Linked DNA regions of Homo sapiens. The protein of the gene in region 4 purifies or fractionates together with the protein of the main gene of each other region. This does not show direct contact. Each region holds a gene or a part of one and is shown on either strand. Other genes may lie near its edges.

Evidence for each region.
Region 1: the proteins of AGRN (region 4) and MYOT purify together in Homo sapiens (affinity purification with mass spectrometry, with the first as the bait; one large-scale study listed by BioGRID). This does not show direct contact.
Region 2: the proteins of AGRN (region 4) and MAP1S purify together in Homo sapiens (affinity purification with mass spectrometry, with the first as the bait; one large-scale study listed by BioGRID). This does not show direct contact.
Region 3: the proteins of AGRN (region 4) and USP24 purify together in Homo sapiens (affinity purification with mass spectrometry, with the first as the bait; one large-scale study listed by BioGRID). This does not show direct contact.
Region 5: the proteins of AGRN (region 4) and FLNB purify together in Homo sapiens (affinity purification with mass spectrometry, with the first as the bait; one large-scale study listed by BioGRID). This does not show direct contact.
Region 6: the proteins of AGRN (region 4) and PCNX3 purify together in Homo sapiens (affinity purification with mass spectrometry, with the first as the bait; one large-scale study listed by BioGRID). This does not show direct contact.
Region 7: the proteins of AGRN (region 4) and FHL1 purify together in Homo sapiens (affinity purification with mass spectrometry, with the first as the bait; one large-scale study listed by BioGRID). This does not show direct contact.

The regions. Positions count from the first base shown.
Region 1 is NC_000005.10:137,881,360-137,884,859, reverse strand, and holds part of MYOT (myotilin), read right to left. Parts: exon of another isoform or gene 2,888-3,500; coding exon 2,755-2,887; exon of another isoform or gene 1,477-2,754; coding exon 1,269-1,476; exon of another isoform or gene 1,239-1,268; intron 1-1,238. UniProt on the Homo sapiens protein: Component of a complex of multiple actin cross-linking proteins. Involved in the control of myofibril assembly and stability at the Z lines in muscle cells.
Region 2 is NC_000019.10:17,729,480-17,732,246, forward strand, and holds part of MAP1S (microtubule-associated protein 1S), read left to right. Parts: intron 1-2,767. UniProt on the Homo sapiens protein: Microtubule-associated protein that mediates aggregation of mitochondria resulting in cell death and genomic destruction (MAGD). Plays a role in anchoring the microtubule organizing center to the centrosomes. Binds to DNA. Plays a role in apoptosis.
Region 3 is NC_000001.11:55,096,865-55,100,364, forward strand, and holds part of USP24 (ubiquitin carboxyl-terminal hydrolase 24), read right to left. Parts: intron 3,006-3,500; coding exon 2,907-3,005; intron 1,695-2,906; coding exon 1,612-1,694; intron 1,221-1,611; coding exon 1,079-1,220; intron 854-1,078; coding exon 734-853; intron 309-733; coding exon 88-308; intron 1-87. UniProt on the Homo sapiens protein: Ubiquitin-specific protease that regulates cell survival in various contexts through modulating the protein stability of some of its substrates including DDB2, MCL1 or TP53.
Region 4 is NC_000001.11:1,023,120-1,026,619, reverse strand, and holds part of AGRN (agrin isoform 2 precursor), read right to left. Parts: intron 1-3,500. UniProt on the Homo sapiens protein: Isoform 1, isoform 4 and isoform 5: neuron-specific (z+) isoforms that contain C-terminal insertions of 8-19 AA are potent activators of AChR clustering.
Region 5 is NC_000003.12:58,126,922-58,130,421, forward strand, and holds part of FLNB (filamin-B), read left to right. Parts: intron 1-3,500. UniProt on the Homo sapiens protein: Connects cell membrane constituents to the actin cytoskeleton. May promote orthogonal branching of actin filaments and links actin filaments to membrane glycoproteins. Anchors various transmembrane proteins to the actin cytoskeleton.
Region 6 is NC_000011.10:65,632,776-65,635,357, reverse strand, and holds part of PCNX3 (pecanex-like protein 3), read right to left. Parts: intron 1,280-2,582; coding exon of another isoform or gene 1,233-1,279; coding exon 1,002-1,232; intron 821-1,001; coding exon 717-820; intron 386-716; coding exon 238-385; intron 141-237; coding exon 1-140.
Region 7 is NC_000023.11:136,203,547-136,207,046, forward strand, and holds part of FHL1 (four and a half LIM domains protein 1), read left to right. Parts: intron 1-1,355; exon of another isoform or gene 1,356-1,393; intron 1,394-2,860; coding exon 2,861-3,042; intron 3,043-3,469; coding exon 3,470-3,500.

The DNA.
Region 1 (3,500 bases), on a different chromosome or scaffold from region 4:
CTGTATAATAAATAGTGAATTATAGCAAAATATCTCTTATGCAATATACAATGGCTTAAAGTATTAAAAATATGGTATGGGTTGAGTATCCATTATCTGAAATGCTTGGGACCAGAAGTGTTTTGGATTTCTGATTTTTTTTTTATTTTAGAATATTAGCGTTATACTTGTTGAGCATTCTTAACCTGAAAATCCAGAATGCTCTAATGAACACTTCCTTTGTGTGTCATGTCGATTTTGGAGCATCTTAAAGATTTCAGATTTTTGGATTAGGGATACTCAACTTGTATATTTAAAGCACTTAAAGTGTAAAATTTAAAAACCAGACACCAGTTTTATAAGAACTGCTCTACTTAAGACAGATTTGAGACATAAATGTAGCCATACCTGTTTTCTAAAGCAAGTAGGCCTGTTTTGGTTATAATTAGACATTAGTTTCCTAGTAAAAAGGACATAGTCTAAGGCTAAAAGTTGATATTTACTCTTGATTTTTTAAGAAATTTTTTTAAACAAGGTCTGACTGTGTCACCCAGGCCGGAGTACAGTGGTGCAATCATAGCTCACTGAAACCTCAAACTCCAGGCTCAAGTTATCCTCCTGCCTTAGCCTCTCTAGTAGCTGGGACTATAGGTGTGCACCACTATGCCCAGCTAATTTTTTTATTTTTTGTAGAGACAAAGAAGATCTTGCTATTTGTTACCCTGGCTGGTCTCAAACTCCTTGGCTCAAGTGATCCTTCCACCTTGGCGCCTCTTAAAGTGTTGGGATTACAGGCCTGAGTCACTATACCCAGCCTACTCTTCACTTTTAAACTATGTATTTAACGTTTGACAGATTATGATAATTCTGTAATACTGTGAGTCAGATTGGTTATTTTTATTATCCTCATTTTGGAGAAACAAAGACCAGAGAAATGATTAGACTAAGATTTTCATTTTGAGACTCTATAGTTACGTCTAGAAATGCTTATGCTTCATTATTTGGTTTGTCTAAAATTGTATGATTTATTTTCTTTCCAGAAAAGCTTTGGTGATAGATCTGTCATTCTAGTTTCACTGACTTTCCTTCACATATCTATATATGTATGTATGTGTGTGTATATATATATATTTTTTCCTGTGGTTTGTAGATAAAAATGGACATTCCAATAGGTTGTATAGACATTAACCTTAAATATGAAGTCTGCTGGGCTTTTCTTTTAAAATACTTTCTTTTTTTCAATACTTCTGGATTTTAAGGAATTCTCAAGGGTCTCTTTGGAGGCTTACCAAGGACATCCAGCTGCACAGTGAAGGTGGCTTCTCCTGCTCTATTCTTGGCAACACATGCATAAGCCCCTGCATCTGAAGCTCTGACTACTTCAAAGATGAGTGAATGAAGACCCTTCTCAGACACTATCATTTTGTGCAAATCATCTGATTGAACTGTTCTTCCATTTAGATACCATGACACATCAGGAGCTGGCAGTCCACTCACCTAGAAAGAAAAACACAAGGAGATGGCAGAATTTTAAAGTATTGCATCACTGAAACCTATTTGTCCATATATGAATTTAAACAGTTCCCGTATCTGAGTGGGTTTGCGATTGAAATGCAAAGCAAGAGCTCAAAAGTATTTATAATTTTTTAAACAAAACATTGGAAATAAGATCCTTGAAATTAACATAGTATTTTTAGACTGTCTCAAACCATAACTCTTTTACATGCAACCTCAGTCTCTTTATGAACTCTTAATTTCTATATTTAGAACATTAATTTATGTTACATTGGTTTCCATAAGGAATATAGAAGTCATTGCTTTTCTGGCTAAATGTGACTGCAAATGAAGTCCCAGAGGCACATATATATGAGGCTTCCTGATCTAATGCGTAATTTTTCTAAAACAGAGTGTTCTTGAGCTATAGTTTGGCATATAAATGGCAATTTGTTAAGTGTTTTTACATAAACTGTTAACAGTGGAATCCAAAGCTTTAACACTAACTTGAGTTCATAAGGAATCTGGAAAAAAAATTTTATAAGGAAAAGTTCTCCAAAATAAGGATAATAAAAATATAACCTCTTCTAAAGAGCTTTTCTAGTCTGAGGGACTCTTTTAGGCCAAGAGAAAGCAGGGTGGCTTGAATTTCTTGATAGAGGAGAATTGGAGAGACATTATACTTTAAGGCTGGGCACAGTGGCTCACGCCTGTAATCCCAGCACTTTGGGAAGCCAAGGTGAGTGGATCGCCTTGAACCCAGGAGTTCTAGACTAGCTGGGCATGGTGGCACGCGTCTGTAGTTTCAGCTACTAGGGAGGCTGAGTTGGGATGATGGCTTGAGCCTGGGAGACAGGTTGCAGTGAGCTGCGATTGTGCCATTGCACTCCAGCCTGGGTGACAGAGCAAGACCCTGTCTCAAAAAAAAAAAAAAGGGCATTGTACTTTAAAAATTATATTGTTCTGATAGCTTCACTTATAAAAGTATTTATTAGGTATACCTATCCACTCAATTAATCCTCATAATTTTTTGGGGTATTTGTTATCCCATTTTACAGATGAGGAGACAAAAGCACAGAGAGGTTAAATGACTTGTCTAAGGTTGCTTAGCTGGAGGATGGCAGAGCCAGAATTCAAACCCACATCAGTTTGACTTCAGAATTTGTGTTCTTGTCCATTGTACGTACTGCTTTGCAAGCTATGAAGTAGGAAAAGAACATTTTTCAAAACTTAGTATCCCATTGTTAATTTTCCCCCAGTACTTTTGAACCCTTCTCTTACTTTGAAGTCCATTCTGCAGAATCTTCCTTCATCAATCGACATGTTCTCTGGCACTTGAATGAAACGTGGTGGGTAAAATTTCTCCTGGATTGCATCCTGATCATTCACATCTCCCCTTGAGGTTGATCTACTTCTACAAGAATATTTTGGTAACAACTATGCGTAAATATTATCATTGCTTTTCATTTTGCACAAATATAGTTTAGCCATCAATTTTTTTTTTTCAATGGAGTTTCACTCTTGTTGCCCAGGCTGGAGTACAGTGGCCCAATCTCAGCTCACTCAGGAGGCTAAGGCAGGAGAATCGCTTGAACCCGGGAGGCGGAGGTTGCAGTGAGCCGAGATCGCGTCGCTGCACTCCAGCCTGGATGACAGAGTGAGAGTCTGTCTCAAAGATAAATAAATAAATAAAAATATCCAAATTAAGTTTTTGACGTTTTTCTATAGTGGTGGTGTGAACATGTATATAGTTATATTCAGAGATGTGGTATTTCAGTTATACCAACCTCCGCTTCTTGGGTTCAAGTGATTCTCTTACCTCAGCCTCCCGAGTAGCTGGGATTACAGGCATGTGCCACTACGCCTGGCTAATTTTGTATTTTTAGTAGAGATGGGGTTTCACTATGTTGGTCAGCCTGGTCTTGAACTCCTGACCTCAGGTGATCTACCCACCTCGGCCTTCCAAAGTACTGGGATTACAGGTGTGAGCCACTGCGTCCAGCCTAGCCATCAAATTTGAAACCACA
Region 2 (2,767 bases), on a different chromosome or scaffold from region 4:
GAGGAGGGTCTCTGGCCTGCTGTGCTGTTCTTTGTTTTTTTTCTGAGACAGAGTCTCACTCTGTCATCCAGGCTGGAGTGCAGTGGCGCAAACATGGCTCACTGCAGCCTCGACCTCCTGGGTTCAAGCAACCCTCCCACCTCAACCTCCCGAACAGGTGGGACCACAGACACGCACCATAACGGCCAGCTAATTTTTTTTTGAGATGGAGTCTTGCTCTGTCACCAGGCTGGAGTGCAGTGGTGCGATCTGAGCTCACTGCAACCTCTACCTCCCGGGGTCAAGCGATTCTCCTACCTCAGCCTCCCAAGTAGCTGAGATTACAGGCATGCGCAACCATGCCCAGCTAATTTTTGTATTTTTAGTAGAGATGGGGTTTCACCATGCTGGTCAGGCCGGTCTCGAACTCCTGGCCTCGTGATCTGCCCGCCTCGGCCTCCCAAAGTACTGGGATTACAGACGTGAGCCACTGTGCCCAGCCTACGCCCAGCTAATTTTAAAATTTTTCAGTAGCACTGGGGTCTCACTATGTTGCCCTGGCTGGTCTTGAACTCCTGAACTCAAGTGATCCTTTGGCCTCGGCCTCCCAAAGTGCTGGGATTATAGGCATAAGCCACCACGCCCGACTCAACGTTTAATTTTGGATGAACCGCCAGACTGTTTTCCACAGCAGCTGCTTGACGCTAGCCAGTCTAATGGGTGTGAGGTGGGATCTCATTGTGGTTTTGATTTCCATGTCCCTAATGATTAGTGATGTTGCATCTTTTCATATGCCTATTGGCCATTTGTCTGTCTTCTTTGGAGAAATGTCTATTCAATTCCTTTGCTCATTTTAAAATTTTGTTTTACTTTTTAGAGACAGGGTCTCGGTCTGTTACCCATGCTGGAGTGTAGTGCAAACACAGCTCATTATAGCCTCAACTTCCTGGGCTCAAGTGATCCTCCCAGCTCAGCCTCCCAAGTAGCTGGGACTACACAGGTGCATGCCATCGTGCCTGGCCAATTGTTTAATGTTTTGTAGAGATGGAGTCTCACTATGTTGCCCAGGCTGATCTTGAACTCCCAGCCTCAAGCGATTCTCTCGCCTTGGCCTCCCAAACTGTTGGGATTACAGGCATGAGCCACCATACCTAGCCCCCTTTGCCCATTTTTAAATTGAGTTGTTTTCCGTTGCTGAGTTTTAGGAGTTTTTTAAATCATTCTGGACATTAATCCTTTAGCAGATAAATGGCTTGCAAATATTTCCTCCCATTCTGTGAGCTGCCTTTTTATTCTTTTGATAGTGCCCTTTGATGCACAAAAGTTTTAAATTCTCATGAAGTCCATTTTGTCTATTTTTTTCTTTTGTTGTCTGCACTTTTGATGTCAGACCCAATAAATGATTGCCACATCGATTTTTTTTCTTTTTTCTTTTTCTTTTTTTTTTTTTTCAGATGAGTCTGGCTCTGTTGCCCAGGCTGCAGCATGGGAGCACTATCTTGGCTCACTGCAACCTCCGCCTCCCGGGTTCAAGCGATTCTCCTGCCTCAGCCTTCCTGAGTAGCTGCGATTACAGGCACCCACCACCACACCTGGCTAATTTTTTTTGTGTTTTTAGTAGACACGGGGTTTCACCACGTTGGCCAGGCTGGTTTCAAACTCCTGACCTCAAGTGATCTGCCCGCCTCGGCCTCCCAGAGTACTAAGATTATAGATGTGAGTCACCATGCCTGGTCAAATCCAACAGTGAGAAGCTTCTACCCCATGTTTTCTTCCAGGAGTTTTAAGTTTTCCATTTCACATTTAGGTCCATTTGGAGGTAATTTTTGTATGTGGTGAAAAGATCCAGTGTCATTCTCTTGCATGTGGAAGCCCAGCTTTCCCAGCACCATTTGTTGAAAAGACTATCCTTTCCCCATTGAATGTTTGGAACGCTTGTTGAAGATCATTTCAGCATACATGTGATGATTTATTTCCGGGCCTCTATTGTATTCCATTGGTCTATATGTCTGTCTTTATGCCAGTGCCACGCTGTTTTGATTACTGTAGCTTTGTAGTAAGTTTTGAAATCTGGAAGTGTGAGTCCTCTATCTTGATTCTTCTATTTCATGATTGTTTAATCTCCTTTTCACATTGTTCATTGTTCATGTATAGAAATTCAACTGTGTTTTGCCTGTGGACTTTGTACCTTGCTTCTTTGCTGAATTCGTTTATTATTATTTTTTGAGATGGAGTCTCACTCTGTCGCCCAGGCTGGAGTGCAGTGGCACAATCTCAGCTCACTGCAACCTCCACTTCCTGGGTTCAAGCAGTTCTCCTGCCTCTGCCTCCCGAGTAGCTGGGATTACAGGCACCTGCCACCACGCCCAGCTAATTTTTGTATTTTTAGTAAGAGACAGGGTTTCGCCATGTTGGCTAGGCTGGTCTTGAACTCCTGACCTCAAGTGATCTGCCTGCCTCAGCCTCCCAAAGTGCTGGGATTACAGGCGTGAGCCACTGCACCCCCAGGCCTGATTTTTTACATTATTGTTCATAAAGTCTGTTGAACTGGCATTTTCTTGTAGAATTAAATATCTGTGCCTGGCTTTGGTATTAAGACAATTCTGGTCTTATAAAATGAGTTAGGAAGTGTTCCTTCCTCTTCAGTTCCTCGGAAAAGTTTGAGAAAGGCTGATGTTAGTTCTCTAAATGTTTAGTGGCTTCCCCAGGGCTTTTCTTTGTTGGGAGGTCGTAAGTTACTGATTCATTCTCCTTGCTAGCTACAGGTATGTGCTGATTTTCTATTTTT
Region 3 (3,500 bases), about 54 Mb from region 4:
TCCCTGCACCACAGCGGTGAGTATGGATGATAACGGAGAGCAGGGGAGGGCAGAAAGTGAGTAAGTGCTGCCTCAGGAAACTCTTACCGCCTGTCCTTAATGAAGGAATAGTAGTGGCCTGCGTGTGCCTGCCCACTGTGTACGATGACACCGACAAGTTCATAGTTTTCTGTGAGGGCAACCTTTTTTCGTGGGGATCCTCCACCGCCCTGATCCACACTTCGCCCATTTTCCCCAACTTCAGAAGAAGAATCTTGGCGAGCCATTCCTGAAACTGTGTAAGGCTCCATGTTTAGCATCCAGGGAAACTATGTAGAAGCAAAAAGACCATATTAACGTTGATTACTAACATATACAGCAGTACCCAGTTAAGTGAGATCCAAATAAGAGGAAGTGTTTTCCTAGTTTAAGCTAGGAACAACTACCTCACCAGTTCAAGTATAAAATCTCAGAAATGTTAAGTCTGGGAACGTCTAAAGTAGCCTCTGGTTTGAGCCCTAAGGAAGGCATTTTCCTTCATAGTAATCACTAGGATGCCTTCTAGAAATGAGGGCCACTGTTTCCAGATCTGCCTATTCCGGTAACAGCAGCTGCCTAAGATAAGGGGCTCTTCATAATGCTGAGACAACAGCCTTAACATGGTAGACAGAATATGAAAATTGAAAAAGGAAAAAAAAAGAAGTGAGTGAGGAAATGAATGGTTGTGAAAAATTTCAGGAAGAAAAAAAGTTACCCTTATTTGTTCATCATATTTAATGGAGCGTCCGCTTTCCCAGTCAAACCCAAATCTCATTAGGTGAATTACCAAGACGCTAGGTAAAGATTTAATACAGGTCCTTTTCACTGTTATTCTCTAAAGAAAAAAAAAAGGAAAAAGAGCAAATCTGAATGATCTCCATGGAGAAAATAAAACAGCACAGTAATTAATGCAAAGGCCTTTCTGATCCATGTGAAAACAAGTAATGACACAATCTAATGGAAATAACAGTAGGAGCTTAATACTGATTTTACATAAAACAAAGACGCACTATGCGAATAACAAATTAATCTTGTTTTTTAAAAAGGGCAAACATAATACCTTTTCTTTACACTTTTCACAGTAGTACGCATTACTTCCTTCTAGAACTTCTCCTCTAACAAATTGGTCCAAAGAAATTTCCAAACTCTGACAAGAAGTCACTCCTAGATTGAGAGCCATGAAAGCTTCTTCACGCTCATATCTGATTAGGAAATAACAGAAAACCCACAATCAACAATGGAATTTAAAACTCTTCAATTATCATAATACCTAAGCTTGAACACAGAACTACATTTTTAATCTGGGAGTCCCTCAATATTTTAAAAGTCCATTACTAAGTTAAAATGCCACTTTGTGACAATTAAGAATTGCCTAAAATTATGAATTTCAATGAATATTTTCTTAAGCCCACAAAGAAATTTTTTCTCCTTCTGGAAGTAGAAAGCAAAGAAATTTAAGTCACTAAATACTTATAGATCTGTTGACAGGGAGAGAGTTCTAAGTCTCTTAACAAATGCAAAATTTACAACATACTAAACAAATCACTTCAAAAGGATGATCATTTTTCCTGTGTCGGTGATATCTTCACTCACCTGTGAGGACAGTCTTTACAGATCTTCTGATCAGAGTAGATGCCCTGAAATGTATTCTTAAAAATTTGGTCTCTCCCCATTTTCTGTTGGAATGAAAAGTTACAGTTTTAAGTGATGCCTCCTGAACTTATGAGTATACAGAATTTTATTAACACATTGCAATTTAAGGACCAAAACAAAACGCGTCATTCTGGTAGTATCAGCTGTGGTGAATGGAGGCTAAACCCATTATTGGCCCCACTGTCAGAGTGATGCAGACGATCAGAAGAGGAAGAGGAGGAGGGATGGGTCAGGTAGAGCTAATGACAAGAGAGTGTTCTCCAGGGTGATTCTGAATCCTTCTCCCTGTGCTACAAGGACCAAGTTAGGGGCAACTCTCAGCAATCTTTTCTTTTTTCTTGTGGATAGAATGCCATCAATTTGCAAGTTACTTTAAAAAATGGAAGAATTGTGCCTACTGATGAGAGGCCAATGCTGGCAGTGACAGCGGGATCTGAGAAGGCAATACCGTTTAGGAAGTCTGCCACATGGCTTACAGGGTAGAGGTAGAGAGCTTTGGGTTTCAACAGCACCACGAATAACTTTTTAATCTGGCTCCTTTCTCCCCTGTGCCAGAGCACTCTCTGCTCTGCACAGGGCCATCAGCTCACCAGTGACTGCAGCACTCTTCTGAGGCCAGATTATTTCAGTAGACACACAGAAAGAATATGTAGGTAGGAATGGTTATTACTATGTAGTAGAGATTAAGAGTTACATACTTTACTGAGCGTTAGATGAATTAAGAAAATATGCAATTCTAGGCCAGGCATGGTACCTCAAGCCTGTAATCCCAGCACTTTGGGAGGCTGAGGTGGGTGAATCTCTGGAGGCCAGGAGTTTGAGACCAGCCTGGCCAACATGGCGAAACCCAATCTCTGCCAAAAAGTACAAAAATTAGCCGGGCGTGGTGGTGCACACCTGTGATCCCAGCTACTCGGGAGGCTGAGGTGCAAGAATCTCTTGTACCTGGAAGGTAGAGGTTGCAGTGAGCTGAGATTGTGCCACTGCACTCCACTCTGGGTGACAGAGCGAGACTCTGTCTCAAAAAAAAAGAAAAGAAAAAAAAGAGAAAATATACAATTCTATTGATCTGTGTTATGTTTTGATGTTTAAACACAGAATACATTATAGTTCTTATGTTAAAGATAATCAATTTCTGATTCGTCAGTTTCATAGTAACCCCAAATGCTAAGACACTATTCTCATACTATAATTAGAGTTTGAGGGAGTTAGAGGGAAAGTACAACTTTTACTACCTTGAGGTATTCATCCATCTGATCAATGAGACTAGTAAAGAATTCATATGCATCCTGCTGTTCTCTCACATAAAGTTCTTTATTCCACATCTTGAAAATCTATATAACAAAAATTAAATGTTTTTAAAGGAAAAGTAGCAATTTCTGAATGTGGTAGAAAGGGAACATGAAAGAGCACTTAAATGCTTATAAAAATCAGGTTCACTATTAGGATGTGGACATTTCTAGTGAAGTGAGACTAGCTTGTATTCAGCCATCCACCCTTTTTTCTAGTCCCCTTACAATCATAACAAGTCTCTGAAATCAAAAGTGGGTACTGGGTAAGATCTAGGCCATGGAACAGAGAATTTCTCTCTTAGAAACAAATCAACCTATGGGGAAAAACACAAGGTGATCCTCCAATATGTGAAACACAGTAAAGCAATGTTTAAAAATAGTATTCTTGGCCGGATGTGGTGTCTCACGCCTGTAATCCCAGCACTCTGGGAGGCCGAGGCAGGCGGATCACCTGAGGTCGGGAGTTCAAGACTAGCCTGACCAACACGGAGAAACCCCATCTCTACTGAAAACACAAAATTAGCCGGGCATGGGGGT
Region 4 (3,500 bases):
GCCCCACCCAGGCCGCTGGTGGGGCTGTGGACCTGGGTCCCACAGGTGGAAGCAAAGCCCTGGGCGTGGGGCGTCTGCTTCTGCAGTTGTTTTCCACCCTCCTGCAGTGATGGGGGCAGAGTCAGCCCTTCAGGAAGGAAGCTGCATGGGCCTGGCTGGAATGACCTCTGGCCGGACCTGTGGCCCCGAGGCACGGGCACCCCCTTCCCTGGAGCAGCCCCATCCCGCCTTCTGCAGGCTGTGGGGCTAATGATTCCCTCTCCTGATCTTGCAGGGACAGGAACCTGTCCTCACCCTAACCTCCTTCTCCCCTACCTTGGCCTGGAGGCTGCAGCAGGTGCCATCCCCACCACCACCCACAGAGGCCCCACCAGAGCGGCCAGTGTGGACAAGCGGGAGCGAGCCCAGTTCCAAAACAACCTTCCCTCTCTAGTCTGCAGGAACAATGGAGCCAGGGCTGTTCTCTGGGTGGGGAGTGAGGGAGTGGGGTGGGGTCTGGAAAAAGCCAAGAGTTCCTTCCACCAGCTCAGCCCGGCCCTCTCAAAGAGGTCATCTCCACAGAACTGACCAACCCGATTCCCCTACCCCTCCCACCACCTCACTCCCTTTGGTTTCAGCCAGCAAAGCCCCCCCCCAGGCCAAGGCAGGGGCAAGCCCAGGAGAAGTCAAAGACGGGACAAGTCCATTCACGCAGGCGGGAAGCACCGAGCCCCGACTTCCCACCAGGAGCCCCGGGGTTGGGATGGACAGAGGTGGGCCCTTCACCCGGCAGACCCCCCTCCCAGCTCCAGGAGAAACAGAGGTGGGGCCCCAACTTCCTACCAGGAGCCCCTGGGTGGGGAGACACAGAGGTGAGTGGGGAGGGACAGAGGTAGGCCCTCCGCCCTCCCACCCGGCAGACCCCCTCCCAGCTGCAGGAGGGAGATTGGGGCAGCAGCCTCGAGCCCAGACCTGCCTGGGGGAGGGCCAGAGAGGGGCTCATGGGGTGGGGGTGGGGGAACCAGGGGGCAGGATGAGAACCTGGAGTCAGGAGGGGGCAGGAGAGGGTGGCAGGAATGCGGAGGAGTTGGGGGCAGGAGCTGAGCCCTGGGCAGGAGAGGGGGCTGGCCCCAGCCCTATGGGAGGTCCTCCTGCATCCCAGAAACCTCCCCCAACTCCTAGACTGCCCCACACTGAGGGGAGCCTGGTCTGGGGCTGTCGGGCCCCTCAACCCCAGCACCGATGCTGTCCCCGGTGCCGTGGGACTCTGGGCTTCCCCTAGGACTGCCGTCCTGAGGCCTAGGCAGCTGGCCAGGCAGGGAGGAAGGGAGGGTGCACACGCCGGAATACAGGCGGGCCCGGGACTAGGCCGCCGGGACCCCGGGCTTCAGAGCTGGGCAGGGCCGGGCTGGGAAGGCGCCAGACTCACTCTGACCCTGGCCCCCTGCCCTGTCCCTGTGCCAGGCCCCGGCAGGGGCAGACAACACTCCCTTTCTCTGCTCCTGGCTCCTAGCAGGGAGGGATGGGCCCCGGGCGGCCTGGCCGGCCCTCAGCCAGGAGTCCCTCCTGGGGGCTTCAGGGAGGCTCTAGGACCAGCCTTTGTGAGGTGGGCTGGGAGGGCATGGGCAGTGCCCAGACAGGACAGGGTGGCGAGGGCCGGAGGAGTCGCCCGCTCAGCCGCCAGCCCTGGGCAGCTGGCACTGCGGAGGCCAGGCCACTTCCCTGACAAAGCAGGGGCGGGGGTCTCCTTCCGGAGGGAGCAGCGGGCCTCCCCCGCCCAAAGGTGGCGCAGAGGGAGGGACACATACCTGTCTTAGTTATGCCAGGAATGTGGCTCCCTAGGCAGAGAAGGGGGGAGGAGCCTTTCTGAGGGTTGTTGACTGGGGGAGGGGCCTTGGCTGGGCAGGGCCAGGAAGATCTGGCAGGGCCAGGTGAGAAACTGAGGAAAGGAAGTCCTCAGTAGAGCTGAGTCCAGGTGTGGCCCAGCAGCAGGTGCACCTCAGGCGGTGTCCGGGCAGGGGTGGTGAGGGGCGTGGCCCTCCCCGACCTGGGGAGCTCGGAGGGGCCTTTGTCTCCAGGATGGGGTTCCCATACAAGGTGGGACCCTGTGGTCTCAGGGGTAGCTTCTGAAGACTAGGGGCTGCCCAGACGCCATCCTGTGCCCTGGGAGGTGGGGTCGGAGTCAGATGGGGAGAGGTCAGCTAGGCTCAAGCTCCCTCCATCCATCCCCCTCACTAGGGTGAGGCCTTGGCTACCAGAGGGCCCAGGGTGGGGTTCAATGTCCTTATCTCCTACAGAGCAGGAGATGGACCCACCTCCCACACCACCCAGTGTGAGGGGAGGGGTGGGCACACAGAATTGTCCCTTCTCCAGCCAGACTGGCTCCAGAGACCTTGTCCCTCAGGGCTCACCCCAGGCTTCTGGGAGGCATTTACCCTGTCCCGGCAGCCAGGGACCCCAGCCACCCGAGATATCCCTGGTCTACTTCCACAGCAGAGCTCCACATGTCCCACCGGAAGCTCCTGGGCTCCCCCACTCCTCATGCTGTTTCCCTCCTGAGGCTCCCCTTGGCCCCTGGCTCACCTGCAAGGCCCCTCCCATGACAGTCCTCCCTGGCTAACCCTCCCCTGGCCAGCCCCACCCCAGGGGGTCCGGTGGCCACAGCCCCTCCCGGGTGCTCCCCAAGCTGCATACTGGCTGTGGGTCCCAGGCTCCCCACCTGGAGCTCGTCCCTGAGTGCGACTGCCCACAGCTGGGCTAAGCCACACCCACCTGGCAGGGGCTCCCCACGGACCCTCCTCCCAGCGCTCTGCTCCGCCTGGGCACTCGCTCCAGAGCCAGTGCCTGGCACCCGTAGAGCGGCTTCGGTAAGATGCAGAGCCTCGTTCAGCCGGGGTGACTCTCCTGCCATGTGCCCTCTGACCCTAGAGCAAGTCCTCAGCTACTAAGTCACGGACTCTCGGGCTGGACCCACCTGGCTGTGGGGTTAGTGACCCCCTCTCCTGATCTTGCAGGGACAGGAACCTCTCCTCGCCCTAACCCCCTTCTCCAGCCCCTCCTCAGCTCCTGACAGCCTATCCTGAGTCCACGATGCCCCCATCTTTTCCCCAGACCATGAGTGCCCAGAAGAGGACCAAGGTTATCATGTCCTCCCAGTGGGGGACCCAGGGGACCCTCCTCTGTGCTGCACTGAGGCCCTGGACCCTGAAGGCAGCTTGGGGACCACTGACCACAGGCTGGGGAAAAGGCCGCAGCGTTCCTTATTTTGGGTGCTGCCCCTCCCCCTGCATAGCCCCCAGGCATGCACAGAGAAGGCAAGAGCAGTGGACAGTCCAGGACCCCACAAGGACCCCTCAAGAGCCAGGCTAGTGTCAGGGCAGCAAAGTTTCCTGCCGGCCAACGGAGCAGATCGGAGAGACGGGAAGTCAGGACCCTTACCGTTGCCTTGAGGAGGAAGCACTCTCCAGACCCCCCCACCGACACATCCCTTCCCAGGCAGCCATGAGGGAGCAGACAGGATG
Region 5 (3,500 bases), on a different chromosome or scaffold from region 4:
TCCCAGTAGAACCGGTAACATGGCAAAAAGCATCGGCTTAGAATTTTGACTGGAAACAGTTGTGCGTGTGTTGGAGGACCTAGTTCTTGATTCAGGGGAAAGCTGGTTCTTTACAAAGTTGAAAATCACAGTGGCTCACACCTGTAATCCCCAAACTTTGGGAGGCCAAGGCATGCAGATTGCTTCAGGTCAGGAGTTTGAGACCAGCCCAGGCAACATGGGGAATCCCCATCTTTACAAGAAATACAAAACTTAGCTGAGTGTGATGGTGCGTGCCTGTAATCCTAGCTATGTGGGGTGGGGGCTGTGATGGGACGATGTCTGAGATGGGAGCCTGGGAGGTTGAGTGAGCTGAGATTGCGCCACTGCGCTCCAGCTTGGGTGACAGAGGAAGACCCTGTCTCAAAAAAAAAAAAAAAGAAAAAGAAAGAAAATTTCTACCTTATTTTGTGCTTGGCTCCTTATTCATGTGTCTTGGTTTCTTTTTTTTCACTGACAATACTAGTAGCTGATCAAGATATGCAGATTCAAATTCTTTCTTTTGTATTTAGTGATGTCATGTGTAATCACTGTGAAACACGGTTTCTCAACTCCGGCACTATGACACTTTGGGCTAGATGATTCTTTGTGGTGTGGGGCTGTCCTGTTCATTGTAGACTTTTGTCAGCATCCCTGCCCTGTACCTGCTAGATGCCCATAGCAGACTTCTCCTTCCCCATTCTTATTTGTGGCAACCAAAAATGTCTCCATATCTTGCCAGATGTCTTAAGGGACAAAATCACTTCAGCCTGAACCACTGCTGTAAAGATTCAAACAATAAATAAATATATGACTTAAGTAGTGAAAGACCCTCCTCCATTTGTTTTGGGGGGAGGACTCTCCATAGGTTCTAGTTATCTACTCAAATGATTGTCACCCCCACACATTTTATTTATTTATTTCAATAGCTTTGGGGTACAAGTCGTTTGTGGTTACATGGATGAATTCTATAGTGGTGAATTCTGAGACCACCTCCCCCGCCCCCATTTCTAAAAGGGCAGGCAAGTGTGTGGTGTGGACAGAAGACCGAGGGCTGGGGCTGTTCTGGGCCACTTATGCCTTGTCTTAGGTGTGGTGTGAAGAGGGCAAAGCCCCACCCCAGGACCCCAGGAGCAGAAAGAGCCTCAGCGGGGTCTTGTTCTTCTTTCTCTGGGTCACGCTGAGAGGGGAAGGGCAGGTTGAGGGGCCCACTGCTGGGTTCTGGGTTAACTCTCAGGCAGCTGGAGTGTCCACTGACCACACGCTTTCCTGATTCCATTCCTGCTTCCCCCTTACCACATGGAAATGTGCACACACACTCACACTCACTCTCTCTCACACTGATCAGAAAGTATTGACATTCAACTCAGACTGATTCTACTCAGATACTCATTTAAGCCTCAAGTCATTTAAAACAACATGTTTCTCCTCAAACTTGTGCTTGCGGCTCATTCAATATAGATTTAAAAAATTCCTATAATCACTAGTCTAGGGGACTTCAGCTGTGGGCAAGACAAAGTTCCTGCCCTCAGGGAGCTTACTGTCTAGGGCTTTTACAACTAAAACTTGTGATGACTGCTATGAAGAATGAGAATGGGGCTCGGTGACAGAATTCAGAGCTACGGGCTTGTTTTGGAGTTTTGTAACACTTGCGTTAGGAGAGAGTTGGGCACAGGAAACGGGTAGAAGGCTGCTCCCAGGAGGGGTGATGTGGCTCCGACCTGGCAGGCAACAGTGGAGATGAACATCTCCTGTGGCAATGAAACTTTTTGACTATGGGGAAAGGCTGGTGAGTGCCACCAGCTTCCGAATCCCCCTTACAGAAAGGGGTCAGAGTTTGTCCCCTGTGGCCGACCTGTGAGCTTAAAGCAAATGGTCGTCTTTGAGCATAACAACAGAAAGACACTCATTTGTGGTTTTCCCATCAGGTGTGGATGGTGCCTTTTTATGTTTCAGGCTCTCTGTTGCCTCCCAGAGAGCCAAATGCCGGCTTTTCCAGAACCCCAGAACTTTCCCAGGCAGAGATATTTAGTGAAGTGTTGGTTGGTTTTCTAAGCATCAGGCTTCTTAGCTAAGGCAACCTATGGGGGTACTGCCGGGAAACAGTCGGCTACCTGCCACCTTCTAATTTGCTTTCATGGTAATTCTGGGTGCTTAAATATTAGCCTAGTTTTTCCTGGCCTGGTTAAAAACCCGGAGTGGAGTTATTTTTAACAACGTGTCCTGTCTTACCCGTAATGGCATGTTGATTTCCTGTGGTAGGCCAGCTGTGGTTGGTTGGTGGCGGCTCCCTAGACCACTGGATTGACTGGGGTTCAGAGTGCATGAGGAAGAAGATCTGGCATGAGGGAATGGTGACATGTGTCTGGGCATGGAACAGGGGAGTGGCGGATAATGCTTGGGGTCTGCCATCTTGGACAGTTTATCTTACCCGGGTTTGTTGGTTTTTGGCTACTCTCATGCTGAGCTCAGACAACTTCTAGTGGAGGCTCTGACTTAAAGATTGGCCTCAGAGGTAGTCCCTTGCCATCAGCTGTTGACATTGAAATCCTCAACTGTCACTCTCTAAAGTAAAGCCCCCTTTTGTTCCTCTCACCCCAGTGTGGAGGCCTGTGCTTGTTTGCCAGGGCCAGCCATTTATTTCACGTAGCTAAAGACCTGGATGCCGTTGAAACCCAGCTGTTGTTAGAAAGCCAGGGACTCAATTCTTTGTGTGTCTTGGCTGTCTACCATCTCTAATTCTACAAAGTATAAATTCTCTGGGATGCAAAGCAGAGATCCCTCAGCTTTCACGGCAGTCATTAACTTTGCCAGATACCATGGGGAGCACCAGGACTCCCATGCGAGGCAGAGGTGCACGTAGCCCCTTGGTGATGGGCGTGGTAGCCTGAGGCATGCTGCCGTTCGCTGGATGGGGAGGTCCCCCTCCACAGTGGAGTCCATGAGTGTCCTTGGCCTAGCCCTTGTTTCTCTGTTTAGCACTTCTCTAGCAAATCACTATCTCCTCTCCTCGACTCCTCTGTGCTTCATCTTTAAAACTGACACCCTCAAGGAGTCAGAGGCCCTCAGGGTCCCCCGGGGGGTCAGCCATGTAGCAGGAGCTCAGCTTACACTCAGGAAGACGGCAAGGCTTCACCAGGTGGCCGAGTGACCGAGAAGGCTGAGTGTGGTCAGAAGGTGCCAGCTGCATTGGAGGGAGAGGAGTCTGGGGGACACACAGGAGCCATGTGTGGGGGACAGGGCTGGATGTGGGCTGCAGGGCCTGCCCATCTCTCTCCGTTCTGTTGTTCCACCACTTGGCTTCCTCCTTCAGTTGCTCCAGCAGCCTGTCTCCTCCCTCGCCTCTAGGCTCCTGCATGTGCTGAGGCCTCTCTACTTGAAGCACCTCTCTGTCTGCTCCCTCTTGTGCCGCAACTGAGATGTTACTGGAAAGCTTTCTCTGGTCTCCCGCAGACCAGGTTAATTGCCTCCTGAGTGCTCCA
Region 6 (2,582 bases), on a different chromosome or scaffold from region 4:
AGGGAGGGCGTGTTGCTGAGGATGGCGCTGCGCCATGCTGGGTCACCCTCATGTGAGATGACCAGCCGCTCCTCGTTGGCCGCAATGGCATCGTATAGGGCTGCTGGCTCCTCATATTCATCTGGGGACGTGAAGTGGTCCTGGTAGAGAAGACGGGAACAGGGGTCAGTGGCCCCTGCCCTGGAGAGAGGCTTCATCCCCCACCTGCCCATGCTGCTGGGCACACCCCTCCCCAACCTGGTGAAGCTTGAGGGCCATGCGAACCCCAGGCGCCACAACGCGGTGAAGCAGGTCCATGTCGGCAAAGACCCACTCGTCACGTGGGGAGGTGATGCGAAAATCCCCCTTGAACAGGGCGTGCAGGCCGTAGAGGAAGGGCTCCAGGCTAAGTGGGAGGAAAAACAGGGAGGGGAGAGAGGGGTGTCGAGGACCCAGGGGTAAGGCTTCAGAGTGATCCAAGCAGAGGCCTTTCCTCACGCTGAGCCTCAGTTTCCCCATCTTGACAAAGAGGCCAATCTCTGCCCATGTCTCTCACAGAGCACTGAGGAGCAGGCAAGGTCATGACCAGGAAGTGCCCTGCCCGTGGGAGAAGAGGTACCCCAACAGGAAGGGCCACTGCAGTTTCTGTGGCCACTGTGGCCAGAGACCACAGTGCTCTTCGTGGAAGAGGTGGGGTGGGGACGGCAGTAGGCCCCGCGGGACACCCGAGCACTCACCTTGCAGACATGCTGTGAGAGGCTGTCCCCAGGGCCCGGCGGCCCAGCACACACAGGCCAAAACACAGCGTGACCAGCGGGGAGTTCCAATCCTGGTCCACGGGCTGTGGCATAAGGACCCCCATCCCAGAGCCCAGCTCAGACCTGGGACAGGGACCTTGGAGTGGGGGCTGGGGCTCAGGCTAAGGGAGGCTCAGAGTGAGAGGAAACCAAATGGGGAGAAGGGGAGCAGGGAAGCCCAGGTCCCACAGCCCCAGGTGGCAGCCTCAGGTAGTGGAGCCTGACCTGGCTGCGCCGGGAGGCGCAGTACTGGATCCACTCGAGGTGCACAGCACAAAAGGAGGGCAGCGAGAGGCCAGACAGGCGGAGGTCATAGTCCTCATCCACACTCAGCGAGAAGGTGGGATCCGAGTCGGCATAGCCGGGCACCCGCACAGGCCTCAGGGCTGCCGTGATGCCCTCATGGCTGAGCCACACCTCCAGCTTTGGTGAGCGGCTCACGTAGTAGATGATGCTCTGGGAGAGGAGGGGCAGGCGTCAGGCCGGGGTCCCGGCCCTGGCCACTGGAGGAGAAAGCATGGAGGTTCAGAGGCTCCTCCCCAAGACTGAGCTGAAGTCCGCTTTCTGGGATGCCCCGCTCCTAGAGCCATCTCAGCTCTCAAGAGCAACCAAGCAAGTTGGCTCCTTCCCCTAGACCAGGGAGGAGTGACAAAGCCGCCAGGAAGCACCCACTTACAGAGCAGGAAGTCCTGTGCTGGGGCTAGCACTCACAAGCAGCATCTGCCTGCCTCTGCCCTAGAATATGCCCCGTTTGTATGAGAAATTGAGGCTCAAACAAATGGCAGCCCCCAACGAGAACAAGATCATCACACTCAACATTTACCACCTCAGCTTCCAAGTCATCAAGGTGGAGCTGGCCCCACCTGCCCTGAACCCTGTCCCCCACCCGCCTCTGGCTGGCCCCGACACTATGGTGTGGCCCTCAGGTGAACCTTCAGTGCCTGTGCAGCACGTGGGCCAGGTAGCAGCAGGAGCTGGTGTTCCTGCACAAACATAACCCCGAGCGCGGGAGCATCCAGATGTCACATGGGCAGGGGGCGGGGAGCGAGTGGGGCAGAACAGACTGAACTGCCGCCTGAACCCCGGACCTTCCCCATCATGACATTGTGGGATCCAGATCTCGGGGCCGGAAGGGCAGGCTGAAGTAGTGGGCCTGCCTCAGAGTGCCTGGGTCACAGGTCCCTTTAGGCAGCTGAAGCATGACAGCCATCAGGCCTCGCCTCAGAAAAAAGCCACGGGCACATGTGGTACCCAAAGCTGGGGGCTCCTGGACCTCTTGTTAAAAGGCCCTGTTGGGCAAAAGTACAGGAGCTTTGGAAGACAGGTAGCTGGCATGGCCAGGATGCACGGGCGGGTTAAGGCCGGCAGGGCAGCCAGTGAGGTGATGGGGATTCCATGTGCCACCCTAAGATGGAGCTAATGGGGCAGGCCCTTTGCCAGGGCAGACCCGCTCCAGACTGACTTTCTTGCCCATAGCTCGCCTCTACAATCCAGGCACCACCAGAGCTGCTAAAAAGACCCAGAAAAGAAAAGCTTCAGCCAGACAGGGTGGCTCACACCTGTAATCCCAGAACTTCGGGAGGTGGAGGTGGGAGGATCGCTTGAACCCAGGAGTTCAAGACCAGCCTGGACAACATGGCGAAACCCCATCTCTACAAAAAATACAAAAATTAGCCAGGCATGGTGGTGCATGCCTGTAGTCCCAGCTACCTGGGAGGCTGAGGTAGGAGGATTACTTGAACCTGGGAGGTGGACACTGCAGTGAACCCAGATGGCACCACTGCACTCCAGCCTGGGTGACAGAAT
Region 7 (3,500 bases), on a different chromosome or scaffold from region 4:
TCTGACATTTTCAACACCCTTTGTTACTTCTATCTTCACTGGTGAGCTGTGGATTATTTTATCATCTGGATGCTTAGAACTCTGAGCAAGTCATGTTCTAGAACTATGAGACTAAACAATGAAGAACTTTGCACTGGTAATATCAAAGTACTGAAAGTGTGTGGTTTTAAAGTGTGAAAAACATGGCAGTTAAGATCTCTCAGGTACTTTGAACCATAATGCAGTTTTCCTTCTCTTCAAAACCTCTACTTCTAAATGGCATTCATTGTGTTTTCTAGTGTTTTTTCTTTGGTATGACACTAGTTAACCTGTATTTCTTACCATAAAGCTAGGACTCAAATACTAAGAGGTTTGACTCACCTTAGGTGGAACTTTATATAGTACTTTAACTTAGAAATATTTGGAATCAATTTCTGCTTATAAAGGTATCAAAAGCAAGTGATACTAAAACGAGTAGGTTCAAAGTTGTATACTAAATAGAGACCTTGGTAAGAGAGAATGAGGGATTTTCAAATATGGTCCAGAAGATAGTCTCTGAAAGGCTAAACCAGCAATGGTTACTAGCCATGCAGGAAGCCAGTGCTGTCTAATCTTACAAATTCTGTTTTCCTGCCAAATGGCATTTAGGAGCAACTGATAATTTATTTCTTGCCACTTGCCGTTACTGGAGATTTATTTGGTTTCTCAACTCAGCCCTTAACAAGAAAGCAAGTCTTTGTTGAGGGCACAATATTATCAGTATGGCAAAGCTAAGACGAGGCTTCTGTGTGACACTGGAAAGACCAACAAGAATGGATTAAAGAGAGTGATTTTCCATATGCTGTCACTGGGACAGGTACTTTTCTCTGTAGACACACAGGCTAAAAGCAGTTTAAAAGCTTCCTTACCTAAACAGTACATAGTTCAAGGAGATAGGCCCTGTGTCCATTGCGTCTCTAGTTTTTGTTTCTAACCCATTATATAAAGAAACATCCCAGTTTGCTTTTTAGAGAAAAGTTCAAGTTAGAACCATTCTCTGGTCTTGCTAAGTCTCTTAATTGTGACACAACTGTCCTAAGCAACTGTCCTTGCACAAGAATGTCACTCATCTGCTTCATCTGCCAGCTCCTTAGAGATGAGGGGGGTCTGTGTGTCAGCAGGAGGCAGAAGGCCCTGTGGCTCATCCAGTGGCCTGATTTCCTTTGTTTGGAGGCTTGGTTCTGAGTGAGAGTTCAACAGCCTTTGCCCAGGCGGCTTCTCAAACACAGGGTGTGGTTTCCTTAGCTCACTCTCTGCTGTTTGGTTGCTCATGGCAACAAGATCCAAATAACTTGGACATGTGTTTGTATAAAAAAAACCTGGGAATGGAACCCAAAGTGAGACTTTGGGGCTTTCAGTTAGTGGAAGAGCTGCGGTGAGTACCAGGCAACTGCTCATTTATTTTCTCTCATTCTTTCTCTCTAAATTACGCTGGAAGTTTGCTAGCACAATAACCATGTTTGTGGATAGTTTTAGAAAGTAGTCTCAATTCTTGTATTTCCTGCACAAATGAAATAATTGCTATCTATTTACCCGTGCAAATTTCTTTTTCGGGGGAGAGGAACAAATTAGCATATGTTTAAAGAAGTTGAAAGCTAATAGAAACTCATATTTGGTACCTTTTGGGTGGCAGGATTCTATAGGAAATGCCTTGGCAAAGGGAGCTGCAGAGTGCCTTAGTAATGCTTGGGATTGCAGGCGTGTTGTCTAGGGCCACAGCCGGGGAGGGGACCAGGGAGGGAAGAGGGGTTGTTCATACGGAGGGAGTGGAAGGGATTCTTGGAATAATTTTTTCCAGACTCTATTTTAAGATTATAATTTTTAAGACAGCAAATATCCCAAATGGTAATACTGGTTACACTTCTATGAGCATATTGATTCTCACTTGCTTGACTCAAGGGAGGGTTTGATTTTGGTCACAAAGCCACCCGTGACTATGACAGATAATTCAAGGTTGCCAAACTTGCCTGTGCCAATTGACAAAGCCATTTATATAAGTCCTCTCTTGCTATATTGCTCTGGCCTCAAAAGGCAGTAAACTCTCTTGGACAAAACTCTTTAGGATCTATTCAGGGATTTAACACTTTTCTGCTAAATTGCAAGTAAATTTAAACATTTTAAACAAATTAACAAGGATTGCTTAGGTACCTGGTGTGGTACAGAATGAGCTGTCAGTTTCTATTCTGATGAATAGAATTTTATAGATAGGAGGAACGGGAGGCCTCCAGAGGATACTACCCTCCCTAAAAAGAGACGGAGGAAGAGCTGAAAGCGGGCAGAGAGGCTTCTTGATGACAACGTGGTGGGCTTAGAGAAGCTGCTGCCTGCAGGCGGGGCCCCTGCTTTCCTGCACCCCTTTGAGCCTCTGCCCCACACTCTTCCTTTGTATAAAACAACTGCTTCTTGCCTGCCTGCCCCATCACACCCCTCCACTCCATCGGGTCACTGCTCAATGGCACAATAGCACTGCTCAGCCATACCTCCCAGCATCCTGTCCCCTATCTGGTGACTTGGCCAACACAGGCTCTGATCCACTTGCCCCGCTCCGCATCTTTTGTGAATCAGCACAGTTGATATATCTGAGCAGGGGCTTCTACCATCTCCCCAGGGAATCACTAGCCATCGGCCATCTGGCCCCGCGGGGTGCTTTTGTTCCTGGAATCATAGTGAAGTATCTGTTGTCTTGGTGCCTGGTAGTCAGCTCGGCTGAAGGGGAAGCTGGGTCTTGGTCCTCAGACCCCATGGACTCCAAGGCAGCATTGTGCAGGTGCCTCTGGGAGCCACTGCTCAGGGTGCTGGGGCATTTCCTGTGGTCATTTGTCCTGTCTGCTTGCCCCCGCAGGTCCCTCCAGCTACAAGGTGGGCACCATGGCGGAGAAGTTTGACTGCCACTACTGCAGGGATCCCTTGCAGGGGAAGAAGTATGTGCAAAAGGATGGCCACCACTGCTGCCTGAAATGCTTTGACAAGTTCTGTGCCAACACCTGTGTGGAATGCCGCAAGCCCATCGGTGCGGACTCCAAGGTAACGGGCATCCCCATGTGCCAATGGGAAGGGCTGGGTTTTGGAGTGTCCTTTGCCCACAACCATGGCAGCAGCAGCTGGCTGTTAGGATTTCCCAGCATCACTGCAGCCACCTTGAGGCCTCAAGGAAGCCTCCTCCACTCCCCAGGCCACAGTGGCCCGAGCTGTTTAATGTGGGGCTTGACTGGATGGGCGCCAGCGCCCTTGCCAGCTCTTTTGATTGCATTCTAAATATTTCAAGAATTGTGAGATTTTTATCCTCACCTCAGCGTCCCTCCTATAAGAATAGTCACTGTGGGGCAGTCCCAGGTGTAAGGGACTGTGTCATCTCAGTGGTCAGTCCCAGGGAAATCAGCCTTATGGGAGGGCTCCTGCCACCACCCCCAGCACCCCTCATGGTGGCCCACCCTGTCTGCTTGGTTTCCAGGAGGTGCACTATAAGAACCGCTTCTGGCATG